Regions from separate parts of the Homo sapiens genome. Here region 2 is linked to region 1. Evidence: fine-mapped expression QTL. Tissue or cell type: minor salivary gland. Region 1 holds a variant in brackets; the other region holds the start of a gene. All regions are shown on one strand. Distances are between the middles of the regions.

Evidence for each region. PIP is the estimated chance that this variant, and not a neighbour inherited with it, causes the effect.
Region 2: RPL8 starts here. The variant in region 1 is fine-mapped to the expression of RPL8 in minor salivary gland (GTEx, PIP 0.97).

Annotation. Positions count from the first base shown.
Region 1 is chr8:144,764,240-144,772,338 of GRCh38, reverse strand. ZNF34 (zinc finger protein 34) reads left to right here. Exons shown (of 6, transcript NM_001286769.2): 6 at 1-115. LOC107986986 (a long non-coding RNA gene) reads right to left here. Exons shown (of 3, transcript XR_001746149.3): 3 at 6,832-8,099. It overlaps LOC105375805 (a long non-coding RNA gene), which reads left to right and starts at 474. Exons shown (of 3, transcript XR_001746148.2): 1 at 474-2,129; 2 at 3,522-3,678; 3 at 6,345-6,729. RefSeq lists a silencer at 3,701-3,995 and enhancers at 5,381-5,675, 6,532-7,135. The variant GCCTGTA/A (reference allele first, on the strand shown) is at 4,728.
Region 2 is chr8:144,787,820-144,795,918 of GRCh38, reverse strand. It overlaps RPL8 (ribosomal protein L8), which reads left to right and starts at 3,529. Exons shown (of 5, transcript NM_001317782.2): 1 at 3,529-3,927; 2 at 4,005-4,146; 3 at 4,424-4,642; 4 at 5,449-5,564; 5 at 5,957-6,150. The coding sequence starts at 3,790. The coding sequence ends at 6,115. It overlaps MIR6850 (microRNA 6850), which reads left to right and starts at 3,928; the gene lies at 3,928-3,988. RefSeq lists enhancers at 1-195, 1,489-2,437, 4,850-5,349, 5,350-5,851, 8,034-8,093 and a silencer at 3,608-3,827.

The DNA.
Region 1 (8,099 bases):
TTAAATAATAACTCTTCATTTCCCCCTTCTCCCTACTGCTGGTAACCTCAATTCTATTTTCTGTCTCTTTGAATTTGCCTATTCTAGGAACATAAATATGTGTGGAATCATGCAATCTGTGTTTCTTTCTATGTCTGGCTTAGTTCATTCAGCATAATGTTTTCAAGGTTTCTCTGTGTTGTTTCCTGTTTCAGAACTCCATTACTTTTTTTTTTTTTGAGACCGGGTCTTACTCACCCAGGCTGGAGTGCAATGGCATGATCTTGGCTCTGCAACTTCACCCTCCCAGGTTCAAGCAACTCTTTCACCTCACCCTCTTGAGTAGCTGGGACCATAGGCGCATGCCACTGTGCCTGGCTAATTTTTGTATTTTTTGGTAGAGATGGGGTTTCACCACGTTGCTCAGGCTGGTTTCAAACTCCTGTCCTCAAGTGATCCACCCACCTTGGCCTCCCAAAGTGCTGGGATTGCAGGCATGAGCCACTGTGCCTGGCCTCTGTTACTTTTAGTTTTTTTAGATGGAGTCTAACTCTGTCGCCAGGCTGGAGTGCAGTGGTGCGATCTCAGCTCACTGCAACCTCCACCTTCCGGGTTCAAGCGATTCTCCTGCCTGAGCCTCCCGAGTAGCTGGGACTACAGGCACGCAGTACCACACCCAGCTAATTTTTTATTTTTAGTAGAGACGGGGTTTCACCATGTTGGCCAGGATGGTCTTGATCTCTTGACCTTGTGATCCACCCGCCTCAGTCTTCCAAAGTGCTGGGATGATAGGCGTGAGCCACTGCGCCCGGCTTCCATTACTTTTTATAACCAAGTAATATTATGTCGTATGTATGTAGCACATTTTGTTTATCCGTTAATTTGTTGTTGGACACTTGGGTGTTCCTACATTTTGCCTATTGTAAATAATGCTAGTGTGAACACTGGTGTGAAAATATGTTTTCGAATCCCTACTTCAAGTACTTTTAGCTATATACCTAGGAGTGAAATAGCTGAATCATACGGTAATTTAACTGTTTTGTCCAGGCATGGTGGCTCACGCCTGTAATGCCAGCACTTTGGGAGGCTGAGCTGGGCGGATCCGTCCATTTGTTTAGGTGTTCTTTAACTTCTTTCAGTGAATCTTTTGTAGTTTTTTGCAACCCCCACCTCCCGGGTTCAAGTGATTCTCCTGCCTCAGCCTCCTTAGTAGCTGGGATTACAGGCATGCACCACCACGCCCAGCTAATTTTTTTATTTTTAGTAGAGACAGGGCTTCACCACGTTGGACAGGCTGCTCTTGAACTCCTGACCTCAAGTGATCCGCCTGCCTTGGCCTCCCAAAGTGCTGGGATTACAGGCGTGAGCTGTCTTGCCCAGCCAGTATCTATTGAATAGACTCCTTTTCCAATTGAATGATGTATTAGCTTGGGCTGCCATAAGAACATACTACGGACTAGGTGGCTTGGCATAAGCAACAGAAATTTATTTCTCACAATTCCGGAGGCTGGGAAGGTAAGGTGCCAGCCGATTCAGTTCCCAGTGAGGGTTCGCTTCCTGGCTTGCAGATGGCTGCCTTCTTGCTGTGTTCTTACATGGTGGAGAGAGACAGATCTCTGGTGTCTCTTCCTCTTTTAGAGGCACCAGCCCTATTGCATTAGGGCCCCACCCTATGGCCTCATTTAACCTGTGTCACCTTCTCACAGCCACTGTCTCCCACACTGGGGGTTGGGGCTTCAACATACAAAATTTGGTGGGACCCAAACGACAAAGGGTCTAAGCATCCTTGCTGAAAGTCAACTGATAATATATGCAAGGCTTTGTTTCTGGGCTCTCTATTGTATTACATTTTATTTCCTGTCATGCCAGTATCACATTGTTTTTTATTGTAGCTTTGTATTAAGTTTTGAAATCAGGAAGTGTGAGTCCTCCAACTTTGTTCTTTTTCAAGATTGTTTTGGCTATTTGGGGTCACTTGCCATTCCATATGAAGTTCAGGATAGTCCTTTTTTTCTTTTTTTCTTTGAAGCAGGATCTCACTCTGTCACCCAGGCTGGAGTGCCATGGCACAAACTCAGCTCACTGCAGCTTCGACCTCATGGGCTCAAGCGACCCTTCCATCTCAGCTTCCTGAGTAGCTGGGACTACAGGTTCGTGGCACCACGCCCAGTTAAGGGTTTTTCTATATGTACAAAAAACACCATTAAGATTTTGATAGGTATTGAATCTGTAGATAACTTTGGGTAGTATTGTCACCTTAACAATATGAAGTCTTCCCATCCATGAACAGCAAGTGTATTTCCATTTATTTATGTGTTCTTTAACTTCTTTCAGTGATCTTTTGTAGTTTTTCAGTTTATGAGTCTTTTGCCTCTTGATTATATTTATTCCTGAATATTTTATTCATTTTAATGCTCTTGTGAATGGAATTGTTTCCCTTAATTTCTTTCTTTCTTTCTTTCTTTCTTTTTTTTTTTTTTTTTGGATATGGAGTCTTGCTCTGTCACCCAGGCTGGACTACAGTGGTGCGATCTTGGCTCACTGCAACCTCCTCCTCCCGGGTTCAAGTGACTCTCCTACCTCAGCCTCCTGGGTAGCTGGGATTACAGGCCTACGCCACCATGCCCAGCTAATTTTTTTTTTTTTTTTGGTACTTTTAGCAGAGACGGGTTTCACATGTTGGCCAGGCTGGTCTCGAACTCCTGACCTCGAGTGATCCACCCACCTTGGCTTCTCAAAGTGCTGGGATTAAAGGCATGAGCCACCACACCCGTCTTTTTTTTTTTTTTTTTTTTTGAGACAGAGTCTCGCCCTGTCGCCCAGGCTGGAGTACAGTGGTGTGATCTCAGCTCACTGCAACCTCCGCCTACCGGGTTCAAACGATTCTCCTGCCTCAGCTTCGTGAGTAGCTGAGACTTCAAACACATGCCACCAAACCTGGCTAATTTTTGTATTTTTAGTAGAGGCGGGGTTTTGCCATGTTGGCCAGGCTGGTCTCGAACTCCTGACCTCAAGTGATGCACCCGCCTTGGCCTCCCAAAATGCTGGGATTATAGGTGTGAGCCATCGTGCCCAGCCTGGCTCTGTTTTTTTTTTTTTTTTTTTTTTTGAGACGGAGTCTTGCTCTGTCGCCCAGGCTGGAGAGCAGAGGCGCGATCTCGGCTCACTGCAAGCTCTGCCTCCTGGGTTCATGCCATTCTTCTGCCTCAGCCTCCCGAGTAGCTGGGACTACAGGCGCCTGCCACCACGCCCAGCTAATTTTTTGTATTTTTAGTAGAGACGAGGTTTCACCGTGTTAGCTGGAATGGTCTCCTGACTTTGTGATCCGCCTGCCTCTGCCTCCCAAAGTGCTGGGATTACAGGCGTGAGCCACCGCGCGCAGCCGCCTGGCTCTGTTTTTTCAGGTTATGTCTCCTAATGTATCCCACTACTGCCTCCTCCAGAACTGCTTCCCTCTTCTCACCTGGGAAGGAGCATCTCTGTGTGTCTGTATTTTCAGTCCCTGGAACATCTGGCAGCCATGGCTCTTCCTCTCTCTCCAGCTAGAAGATCAGGTCAGGTTTGAGGCCTGAAAATTCTGCTGGCAGAGATGGAAACACAACACGTGCATTTCTGCTGAGAACCAAAGCCTACGGTCTGCAGAGAGCAGGCAGAGAGATTCAGCTGGACCAGGTAGGAAGGCCCAGGATGGTGGAATAGGTAGGGGCTCTAAAGATAAAACTATGTCCGGGGTGGGGAGGGATGAGGGTGAGTCATGGCTGAGGGAGAAAGAAGGGGAAAGGGAGAAAAGAGTGCAAGGTGATTAAGAGGTTCAGACTCTGGCTGGGTGCAGTGCTCATGCCTGTAAGGTTCAGGCTCTGGCTGGGAGTAGGGGCTTATGCCTGTAAGGTTCAGACTCTTGCTGGGAGTAGGGGCTTATGCCTATAAGGTTCAGACTCTGGCTGGGTGCAGTGCTCATGCCTGTAAGGTTCAGACTCTGGCTGGGTGCACTGCTCATGCCTGTAAGGTTCAGACTCTGGCTGGGTGCACTGCTCATGCCTGTAAGGTTCAGACTCTGGCTGGGTGCAATGACTCATGCCTGTAAGGTTCAGACTCTGGCTGGGTGAAGTGCTCATGCCTGTAAGGTTCAGACTCTGGCTGGGTGCACTGCTCATGCCTGTAAGGTTCAGACTCTGGCTGGGTGCAATGACTCATGCCTGTAAGGTTCAGACTCTGGCTGGGTGAAGTGCTCATGCCTGTAAGGTTCAGACTCTGGCTGGGAGTAGGGGCTCATGCCTGTAAGGTTCAGACTCTGGCTGAGTGCAGTGCTCATGCCTGTAAGGTTCAGACTCTGGCTGGGTACAATGACTCATGCCTGTAAGGTTCAGACTCTGGCTGGGTGCAGTGCTCATGCCTGTAAGGTTCAGACTCTGGCTGGGTGCAGTGCTCATGCCTGTAAGGTTCAGACTCTGGCTGGGAGTAGGGGCTCATGCCTGTAAGGTTCAGACTCTGGCTGGGTACAATGACTCATGCCTGTAAGGTTCAGACTCTGGCTGGGAGTAGGGGCTTATGCCTGTAAGGTTCAGACTCTGGCTGGGTGCAGTGCTCATGCCTGTAAGGTTCAGACTCTGGCTGGGTGCAGTGACTCCTGCCTGTAAGGTTCAGACTCTGGCTGGGTGCAGTGACTCATGCCTGTAAGGTTCAGACTCTGGCTGGGAGTAGGGGCTTATGCCTGTAAGGTTCAGATTCTGGCTGGGTGCAGTGCTCAT[GCCTGTA/A]AGGTTCAGACTCTGGCTGGGTGCAGTGACTCATGCCTGTAAGGTTCAGACTCTGGCTGGGTACAATGACTCATGCCTGTACGGTTCAGACTCTGGCTGAGTACAATGACTCATGCCTATAATCCCAGCACTTTGGAGGCTGAGGCAGGAGGATCACTTGAGCCCAGGAGTTCGAGACCAGCCTGGGCAACAGAGTGAGACCCTGTCTCTACAAAGAACCAAAAAAATTACCCAGGCGTGGTGGCTCGTGCCTGTAGTCCCAGCTACATGGGAAGCAGAGGTGGGAGGGTCACTTGAGCCTGGGAGGTTGAGGCTGCAGTGAGCCATGATTGTGCCACTGCACTCCAGCCTGGGCAACAGAGTGAAATCCTGTCTCAAAAGAAAAAAGAAAAGAAAAGAAAAAAAAATTCAGATTCATCAGGACTATACCAAATCATGCTGGGGAGACAGCAAGTCCTGCCAAGCATGAGTGGAATTCCATGGTGCAACATCTATAGGGAACTTGGAGAGAGGGGCTACCTCAGGCCCAGCCTCTTTCCTCCCTGTGGAGCTCAGGTCTGTCACGTGGAGAAAGGGTCTAGTTTCTAGGTCTAGAAAGGATGTGGAATTGCCCTCATTCTCAACAAGTGAAGTACTCAGAGAGCCTGGAGAGGGGCAGGGGAGAGGGCAGAGCCTACCCAGCCAGGTCAAGTTCCCACAGTTCTCCAGCCGCCTTTTGGTGAAGAGCTAGATGCATCCATTTCCTCCTTGTGAAATATGCAGCCACGTCATCAAATGTCACTGACCCCTGAAATAATACGTGGGTGTGGGGAAAAAGGCACTGCTAGAGATCAATTTAAGACAAGGCAAAAATAGTTTTGTTTTTTTTTAAGAGATGGAGTCTCGCTCTTTCGCCCAGGCTGGACTGCAGTGGCGCTATCTCGGCTCACTGCAAGCTCCGCCTCCCGGGTTCATGCCATTCTCCTGCCTCAGTCTCCTGAGTAGCTGGGATTACAGGCGCCCGCCACCGTGCCCGGCTAATTTTTTTGTATTTTTAGTAGAGACGGGGTTTCACCGCGTTAGCCAACATGGTCTCAATCTCCTGACCTCGTGATCCGCCCGCCTCGGCCTCCCAAAGTGCTGGGATGGGTCCACCGGCTGCCGCGCCCGGCCAAAAATACTTTTAAGTTACAGAAAAAAATAGATGGAATTCACTACCCTCAGTAATGTAACTGGGATCAAGCAGAGTGATAAAAATTACTGGAGGCAAATAAATACAGTTATGATTTCTTTTTTTTTTTGAGACGGAGTCTTGCTCTATTGCTAGGCTGGAGTGCAGTGGTGCGATCTTGGCTCACTGCAACCCCCGCCTCCCGGGTTCAAGCGATTCCCCTGCCTCAGCCTCCCCAAGTAGCTGGGATTACAGGTGCACGCCAGCACTCCCGGCTAATTATTTGTGTTTTACTAGAGATGGGGTTTCACCATGTTGGCCAGGATGGTCTCGATCTCCTGACCTTGTGATTCACCTGCCTCGGCTTCCCAAAGTGCTGGGATTACAGGCGTGAGCCACCGCGCCTGGCCACAGTATGGTTTTATTGCTTATCTTCTGTACTCACCTTTTGCTTCTCCAAGCCCCAGCTGGAAGAAACAAATCTGGTGTTCCCTGACTCTGCACCACCCAAGTCAGGGTGGTTCAGTCCCCCAGCTTCGACAGAAGAACCACATCACTCAGGCCCACAATTCCCCAAACCACAGGAAGAGCAACCAGGTTTTAGGCCCTGGTGATGGGACAGGTGGCCATGAGGCCTCCTGTGTAAACCTGGAACTTGGGAAGAGGCCTTGGAGCAACCGGCTACACCCAGAAGCTCCCACCCCAGCTCACGGGTGAAGGGCCAGTGGAACAGGAGAAGCTCCCACCCCAGCTCACGGGGGAAGGGCCAGTGGAACAGGGATGTGTTCTTCCTACAGAAAGCCTTGTGACTTCCTGCCCTTTCAGTAAAGGCTTTTGTGCATTCTACTGGAATGTCAGGTATCAAACCACTACCGCCACCGCATAGCCCTTGCCCGCCTGCAGTCGGCCTTCTGGTCCGTCTGACGCAGTCGAACTCTGCAGCGTTCACCTTGCTTCCTATCTTGTTTTGCTTCCAACTTTCCATTACAAAAAACTTCCAACATAGAGAATATTAACAACTACTTCCGACCGGGCGCGGTGGCTCACACCTGTAATCCCAGCACTTTCGGAGGCTAAGGAGGGTGGATCACGAGGTCAGGAGATCAAGACCAGCCTGGCCAAGATGGTGAAACCCCGTCTCTATGAAAGATACAAAACAGCTGGGCGTGGTGGCAAGCGCCTGTAATCCCAGCTGCTTGGGAGGCTGAGGCAGGAGAATCGCTTAAACCTGGGAGGCAGAGGTTGCAGTGAGCCGAGATTGTACCAGTGCACTCCAGCCTGGGTGACAGAGCGAGACTCCATCTCAAAAAAAAAAAAAAAACCACGCCTTCCATATCCACCTGAATTCAGCAGCTGCCGCGCTGTTGTCCTGTTCTCCGAAATGCTCTCTACATGTTGTATTTCTGGCTGAACCATTTGGAAGTGATTTGCAGCTGGTAACACATCTCCCCAAGTGTCGCAGCCCTCCTCTCAAGAATGAGACCATCACTGCACATAACCACACCTAAGAAAATTAACAGTAATTCTGTAATCTCATTTAATAGCCAGCCCATGTTCAAATTTTCCCAATGTCCCCAAAATGTCCAGTAAAGTATGTTGCCCAGTCTGGTCTCAAACTCCTGGGCTCAGCTCAAGCGATCCTCCTGCCTTGGCCTCCCAAAGTGCTGGAACTACAGATGTGAGCCACTATGCCCAGTCTCCACCTACACAGGAGAAACGGCGCCCTGTCTGCTTGTGGGCTGCCTCTTCCAGCTTTGGAACTACAGGCAGCATTATAGCCACAAGCCTTCAATACCCTATTATTTCTCAGGACCAGGCCCCTTTCTGAATAGGCCTGTGACAAGCCCCAAATTCCAGTGTCAAGAACTCCAGTAGACGGGGGAGACCCTTCTTCCTGAGCCTGCAAGTTGCAACAGAGGATGAGTGGTCCTTGTCCCTGCAGCTTTGTCCCGGGTGGCCCCTCCCCCGCTCTCATTCAGGTCATTCCATGTTCTCATTGCTGGGACATCCCTTGCGTGCGTCCCCTCATGAACCCACAAAGGGAACTCTCTGGATGTGTACACGTGGGATTCCGGTTCGCAGGGAAGTTACGTATTTTTCTGCCAAAATAGTTACTCCGCTTCCCATTTCCGCCAGCTCTGAAGACTCGCACCAGTTCCCCACATCTGTGCATTTGTTACTGTCGGGTGTTTCTTGGCCATGTGCTTTTCAACTTT
Region 2 (8,099 bases), 24 kb before region 1:
CTGATCTCTCTTGCTTTTCCCCACACACAGGTGGGGTCCCAGAGAATGTTCACCCATGGCTTTATGTCAGGTTGACATGACGTATCCAAGCCATATAGACGGCAGGGGTCATGGAGATTTAGCACTCACTAACTCGTTGTGCTTCACAAAACAGCACCTTAACCCCTCTCAGAAAAATTCTAACACGCACCTCCAAGCTGTCCCCAAGCATGTGCAATCTCCATCCTCCCAACCACCCCACCTCTTCCTGCTGGCATTGGTCCCTGGGGTCTCCCCTCACCCACTCCTGAATGGGTAACAGGGGCTCCTATGGACTACCCCACCCCTGAGGCACTGAAAGCACATGGGAAAACTATCTCAGAGAATCTTGTTGGAAATACCTTTTCACAAGACATAGCTCCACAATTATAAGACACTAAATTAGAAAAGCAGCGTGCATGAGGTGGGTCATGGTGGCTCACACCTGTAATCCCAGCACTTTGGGAGGCCAAGGCGGGTGGATCACGAGGTCAGGAGTTCAAGACCAGCCTGCCCAAGATGGTGAAACCCCGTCTCCACTAAAAATACAAAAAATTAGCTGGGTGCGGTGGCGGGCGCCTGTAATCCCAGCTACTCGGGAGGTTGAGGCAGGAGAATCGCTAGAACTCTGTGGGCAGAAGTTGCAGTGAGTCGAGATCGCGCCACTGCACTCCAGCCTGGGCAACAGAGTGAGACTCCATCTCAGAAAAAAAGAAAAGAAAAGCAGTGTGCATGAAAAGTACTTAGATCAGTCCCTGGCCCATAAAAAGTGCCTAGCATTGGCCAGGCACGGTAGCTTATGCCTGTAATCCCAGCACTTTGGGAGGCCAAGGCAGGTGGATCACCTAAGGTCAGAAGTTCAAGACCAGCCTGACCAATATGGTGAAACACCGTCTCTACTAAAAAATACAAAAATTAGCTGGGCATGGTGGTGTGCGCCTATAGTCCCAGCTACTCGGGAGGCTGAGATAGGAGAATCGCTTGAACCCGGGAGGCGGAGGTTGCAGTGAGCCCCGATCACGCCATTGCACTCCAGCCTGGGCAACAAGAGCGAGACTCCATCTCAAAAAAAAAAAATATATATATATATATATTCATTCATTACGGAGTGATCCCATTTTAGCCATATGTGATGGTGTGCCCATATGTGGCATACAATTATGCTACGGGGGCGCGGTAGGGGGCAGGGAGATAAGGACACATCAGTTGTTGGGGATTGGGGGTGCGGGCAGATAATGCTGGTTGGGGAGGGGAGCCAAGCTGAGCAAGACAGAGGATCACAATTTCTCATGTTTCTACCAAATTACTGCTGCATGTATGTGACAAGAAACATTTGAAGAACAATTTCAGAAGGAAATAACTTTTTTTTTGAGGCACAGTTTTGCGCTTGTTTCCCAAGCTGGAGTGCAATGGCACAATCTCAGCTCACCACAACCTCCACCTCCTGGGTTTCAGTGATTCTCCTGCCTGAGCCTCCCGAGTAGCTGGGATTACAGGTACCTGCCACCATACCCAGCTAACTTTTGTATTTTTAGTATAGACGGGGTTTGTCCATATTGATCAGGCTAGTCTGGAACTCCTGACCTCAGGTGATCCGCCTGCCTCGGCCTCCCAAAGTGCTGGGATTACAGGCATGAGCCACCGCACCCGGCCGGAAATAAATAATTTCTAACAATAAAGTTTGAACAGCAGGTTGGGGTGACGTCGGATGGCATAAGGGAGGTCACCAGGCCACTAGCACAAGCAGAGGCACTGTGTGGGGAGGGACTAATCCTGGCCTAAGAAAGATGGCTCCACCCCAGAAGGCTGGAAAACCCCATGTCCAGTGCTTGCGGCCTCGTCTGGAGTGGCTGTCAAGTGACCCAGAACTGCATAGCCCCTGCTGTGTACCAGGCTGTGTGGTCTCCCGTGAAGGTCAAGACTGAGCCCAGTCACACAGTCCTCAGGACTGTCAGGTGGATGCTGGCAGGGCCATGTCTCTTCCAGCCTTAAAGCGGCCTGGTCAGTCTCCTGGCTGCACGTAGGGTCTTGGTAGCCGCATCTCATCCCAGAGACCCGTGAGACCATCTTGGGGACCCCACAGCCTGTGTGTCCAAGCACTCTTCTCACCTCTATCCCGCACCCAACTCTCCTTCTGCTCCTCCAGAGAAGCAGATTTGTTCAGGAGTGACGGACAGGCTGGGCCTGTGGGCCAATTTTGGGCTGACCCCAGAACCCCTCACCCTGCCCCCAGGGTCCAGTCCTGCCCCTCAGCCCCTGGCCCTAGCTGTGGGCTGTGCTGCTTCCTGAGTCCCCACCGGGCAGCTCCTCCTCCATCCCCCTGCCGACCCTAGGGGAGGGCCTCCTGCAGCAGCCCCTCCTCTCCCCTGTGAGCAACAGCGGGCACAGGACACCCTTCCACCCTCTCCTGTCTCCTTCTCACGATGTCAACCCTGCCTCAGCCCCTGCAGGGTCTAGGAAACACCCCACCTCCCAGTACCGACAGCAAGCCTCTCCCGCCCACTGGGACCCCCGCCTTCACCTCCTTGCTGCCTCCCCACCCACGGCCTCGCGTGTGCTCGACAGTGCTCACTCAGCCAGGGACTCTCTCCTGGAAAACCTCTTCCCCACCATCCCCCACCCGCGGCCTCGGGGTCCCACCCGTTAGGGGCCCGATTCCGCGAAGCCCCTCTCCACAGCACGTACCGCAGGACACCCCCAGTCGGGCTGACTCTTTCCAGCTCAGGCCCCCACAGCCCCTCCCAGCCTCCATTTCTTGCTCCTTCCCCACCTCTCCCGCACAGGGTTCTGGTCAGGGTACGGTCCAGTCTCCCATTATTCGTCCACTCCGCAGCATGTGACCCAGCCCATCCCCGCTCCTTCTTCCTCGACCCGGGACCCTCCAGCTTGGCCCTCCCCACTTCCTGGGCCGGCCGGCCCTCACCCTCGGCAAGGATCCCGGGGCTCCTCTCCTCGACGCCCGACCTCTCCAAGGGCCTACAGTGGATAAGGTCCCCGCGTCCAGAAGCGCCCGTTCATCAGGGAGACGGACATTTGCCACCTGCAAACCATGACGTTCCACGAGTGGGTCCACGCGTCTCCCCTGCCCATCTCCTGCTCTGCACCAGCGAGAACCCCCTCGGCCTACACGGAAGCCCCTCACCAGGCAAGCCGGGAGCCCCAGACCCCGTGGCCCGGAGTGGGTCGCTCTGTGACACCCTGGACAGGTCACTCAACCACTTGGCGCCTCCTCGGCCACTCAGAAAACACCTGCCCTCCCGGAGACCCCGGTGAAAGCCGAGCACTCCTGCACCCTCCTTCCGAGCCCACGCACACCAGGACACCTTCAGCCGCGTCTCCTGGTGCGCCTGCGCGGGGGCCCTGGAGGAGGAGAAGTAGGCGGGGCCGGCGGCCGCTGGTGACTACAAGCCCCGGCGTGCACCGCGCTAGGCTGGCCGTGGCGCGCCCGGAAGGTGTCGCGGCCCTGGGCCCCGCCCCGGAAGATAAGGCCGCTCGCTGACGCCGTGTTTCCTCTTTCGGCCGCGCTGGTGAACAGGTAGGTCATCCTTGCGGCCTTGCGGCATGGGCAGTATCCGCCGCCATCCTCTTCCGTGAGGCGCGCTGAGACCCGGACCGGCCCTCCTGAGAGGATGCCGGTGCGGGCGCCCGCGGAGAGGGTAGGGAGTGGTGGGCGCGGCGGCCTCGGGGGCGGGGTCCCGGAAAGCCGGGCTGGCGGGGGTACCCGGGCCGCCCGGCCGCGCTAATCGTGAGTCGCCCCCAGGACCCGTCGCCATGGGCCGTGTGATCCGTGGACAGAGGAAGGGCGCCGGGTCTGTGTTCCGCGCGCACGTGAAGCACCGTAAAGGCGCTGCGCGCCTGCGCGCCGTGGATTTCGCTGAGCGGCACGGCTACATCAAGGGCATCGTCAAGGTGCGGAACGCTGGCCGGGGCGGGAGGGGAAGGGACGCCCGGCCGGAACGCCGCACTCACGCCGCCTCTGCCCACAGGACATCATCCACGACCCGGGCCGCGGCGCGCCCCTCGCCAAGGTGGTCTTCCGGGATCCGTATCGGTTTAAGAAGCGGACGGAGCTGTTCATTGCCGCCGAGGGCATTCACACGGGCCAGTTTGTGTATTGCGGCAAGAAGGGTTAGCATCGCGGCGGGGAAGGAAGGTCGGGGTGGGGAGGGGTCTGGGTGTTGCCTGAGGAGTTAACGTCCTAAGCCGATATGGGAACCTCGCAGGCAGAAGCTTCAGGTGGGGACATCCGCGTGGCCAGACCAGTGGCCACCGGTGGGTGCCGAGAGAGTTGTACCGGGAGGCTGGATGTTGAATGCTGTGCTCGCAACTTCGCGGGTTGCCTAGAGCGAGGGGGTTCGCATTGTTTCTTACTGTGCTGACGGCCTGATGCTGCTTCCCCTTGCAGCCCAGCTCAACATTGGCAATGTGCTCCCTGTGGGCACCATGCCTGAGGGTACAATCGTGTGCTGCCTGGAGGAGAAGCCTGGAGACCGTGGCAAGCTGGCCCGGGCATCAGGGAACTATGCCACCGTTATCTCCCACAACCCTGAGACCAAGAAGACCCGTGTGAAGCTGCCCTCCGGCTCCAAGAAGGTTATCTCCTCAGCCAACAGAGCTGTGGTTGGTGAGTATCAGGCAGCAGTTGAATGCTGAGGGCTGTGGGTGAACATGCTGTGAGTGCCGGTGGACAGCCAGTGGCTAGACTTGGTCCCTGGAATTCGATTACCTGTTGTTCTAAAACTTGGGTTCTGTAAGTTTGAGCTCATCCTGTAGTCTCAGTTGTCATCACTGTACAACAGGCACAACAGTACCTGCTTTACTGCTGTTGAGGCGTTAAATGAGATTGGGACGAAGTCACCAGGGTCTTGGATTCTACCGTGGGCTTCCTGATTGCTGCACTTGCATGCAGTTGGTTAACAGCCTTTTTAGAGAAGGCAGGGAGAGATTGTGGCTTTCTCAAAGACGCCTACTGAGTGAGTGAAAAAGGATTTGAGTCTAGGTTAACTCACTGTGCTGTTTGGGAACATCTTGGAATCCTTGTGATGAACTCAGCCTCGCACAGGGGAGGCTCTGAGGTTGTGTTCCTGGAATAAGTAAAGCTGAGATGGGGCAGGCTGAATCAAGTGTCTTACGTCAGGTTGAGTGGCCGGCCTGACGTCTCACACATGGTGAGGGGGGTGCTTCCCTGCGCTTGGAGCTCAGCCAGCATTCTAGGTGATGGAGGTGAGGGCCTTGGCTTGCCTGCCCATTGTGGATTGAAGAAACTGGATGTCAGCTCACAGGGTGCAAGGGGCTCCCTAGGGTGGAGGCGAGTGGGCTTTTTGCTGGGTAGTTGGATGCAGTATTGGGAAGGTGCATGACAGGAGATTGAGGGGAGGTGGGGGTGCTCTGACCGACTGGGGGTTCCCTGAGGTATCTGATCCCCTACAGGTGTGGTGGCTGGAGGTGGCCGAATTGACAAACCCATCTTGAAGGCTGGCCGGGCGTACCACAAATATAAGGCAAAGAGGAACTGCTGGCCACGAGTACGGGGTGTGGCCATGAATGTAAGTAACCCAGAAATGCAGGGTTGGGTATTGAAGTTACAGTGGCCACACTGTTGGGTAGGCAAGTCCCATCCACAGGTGTCCCTGCAGGAGGGGGATCTACGGTGGGAGGAGCAGCAGGTGGTGGTTTGTAGTCACGGGACTGTTGATCCTGCTCCAGCACTCCTGAAGGAGGTGGGCTCACCCTCCTTCACCGTTTCTCCGCAAGAAACGGAGGCTGGGAGGGGCAGTGGGGGCCTGAGCTGGAAAGAGTCAGCCTGACTGGGGTTGTCTAGCGGCACATGCTGTGGAGAGGGGCTTCGCGGAATTGGGCCCCTGACGGGTGGGACCCCGAGGCCGGGGGCGGGGGTGGTGGGGAAGAGGTTTCTAAAGCCATCTTTCTCTGCCTGCAGCCTGTGGAGCATCCTTTTGGAGGTGGCAACCACCAGCACATCGGCAAGCCCTCCACCATCCGCAGAGATGCCCCTGCTGGCCGCAAAGTGGGTCTCATTGCTGCCCGCCGGACTGGACGTCTCCGGGGAACCAAGACTGTGCAGGAGAAAGAGAACTAGTGCTGAGGGCCTCAATAAAGTTTGTGTTTATGCCACCTGGCTGTGCCCACCCCCATGGTTTCAAAGGGAGGGGTCCCTGCTGGGAGGATTTCTGTGGGATCCCCCTGGTTGGTACTGGGAGGGAGTTAGACTACTGAAGTAGACCACCAGTGAGTGGTAGAAGCTTGAAGGGAAAGTCCACAACTAGAAACGGGGTGCAGGTACCCTGGGCAAGACCCTTGCTTCCCCACAGAGGGGACCAAGAATGTGGCATCCAGGACCTGACACTTATGTGGGTGACTCAGTCCCATGGCCTGCAGTGCTTGGATGTGAACACTCATTTCACGTATCAGGAAACAGAATAGGACACAATCGTTGAGCCTGGTGTTCTGGACCATACCCTCACTCTGTCAGCTCCCTGCTAACTTTCTCAGCACCTGAGGCAGTCCTTTGCCCAGGGTCTTTTAGCGACACCCTTTCCCTCCATACTGGCTACAGCCCTGCTGATGTCAGTGTGTTTAAGTCACTGCCAGGGATACCTGGCTTGCAGGTGTCTGCCTTGCACTGGGAACTTGGGATGGGCCCTGAAGGAATGTGGGACAGGCACCCTGTCTACAGCCAGGAAGCCATTCCTAGCCTGGCTTTTACCATTCTGTTCTGCATGCATTCCCACCCCGCCATGGTGGGGAGTGGTCACTGACTGGAGGGTTCTGGGTGCTTTTTCCTGTGGGTGGTGGGTGGGGCCTCATGCCTTTCCTCATTTTCTAGCCTGATAGTGACAGGTGAGGTTGAGGGTGGTGATTGAGTGTGGGGTCCCAGGTCACTGCTGGGATTGCTGAACAAAGGGATGAATGCATGCAGTGTGTGTATGGGGAATCCCAGACCACCCAAGTCCCTTCACCCACCCACCCAGAGCCCTACACTGGACTGGAGCTGGCACCAGCAGTAGGTTGGTCTGCTCCTTGAGTCCTGTAACTCCACAGCTTCGCAGGGCATGTAGCCCCCTCTTCCCTGGGGCAGAGAAACTAACCAGGAACAGCCCCCAAAGCTGCATTGATTACCTTAAAGCACATGGCCTTTCCCTGCTGGCAGGGGCTGATACTTTGGTTCTCTCTAGCTTTGGTAGTGATGAGGCTGACAGTGATGATTGAGTGGAATCAGGTTGGAAGTGTTGGGGAACCCCCCCTGCAATGGGAGGGCAAGTAAGCTGGTTTCCGTCACAAGGCAGAGTGGAGGGGCTTCCTGTTTGGCCATAGCCCATGGCATCTTGTCCCTTAACCATGATCCAATGAGGAGATCCCAGGACAGCATCCTATCAGCACTTTCACACGAGGAAGTTCCACCAGCGAATGCAGCAGCTGCAGATCACTGCCCCTAACAACACTCCTGTGGAACTGCAGCAGGCAGGATGAGGCACGGTCTCTCCCTATAGACTTGGTTGGAGGGTGCCTGGCAGGTGAGAATAGTCACCTTAGGCTTCCGTGGTCACTCCGGGATGACAAGTCCTAACTGGCTGCGCGGTGGTTCCTGGCTGTCATGGTCCACGCTGTCTCTAGAGAACCTTACCCCCCATTTCGTGATCTTGCTTTCCTGATCCTGCTGGTATGGCCCCACCTGTCTTTGGGCGCCCACCACACCTAGGCAGTGACCCAGCAGGGCCTGTTTATTTTAGACAGGCTCTCGCTATTGCCAGGCTGGTCTCAAGCCCCTGGCCTCATGTGGTCCTCCCACTCCAGCCCCGCCTCCCCGCCAGTAACTACGGGACCTGGTTTTGATCTCGTCATTCGCAGGGCCGGTCCCAGGGTCCCAGCTGACTTGTCGAGAAAGAATCCAGGAGGGCGGTGTTTCCTCCTGAAGGATGGAGGGGCATCTGGAAAGAGGGTTTTGGGAAAGCACTAGATGCTTAGCTTGGCCATAAGCGGTCACTGTTTTTCTGCTCCCTTCTGGGCAAAGTGGACGGCAGGGCTTGGCCGATGGACCGGCCATGAGGGAAAGTTTGTTCCAG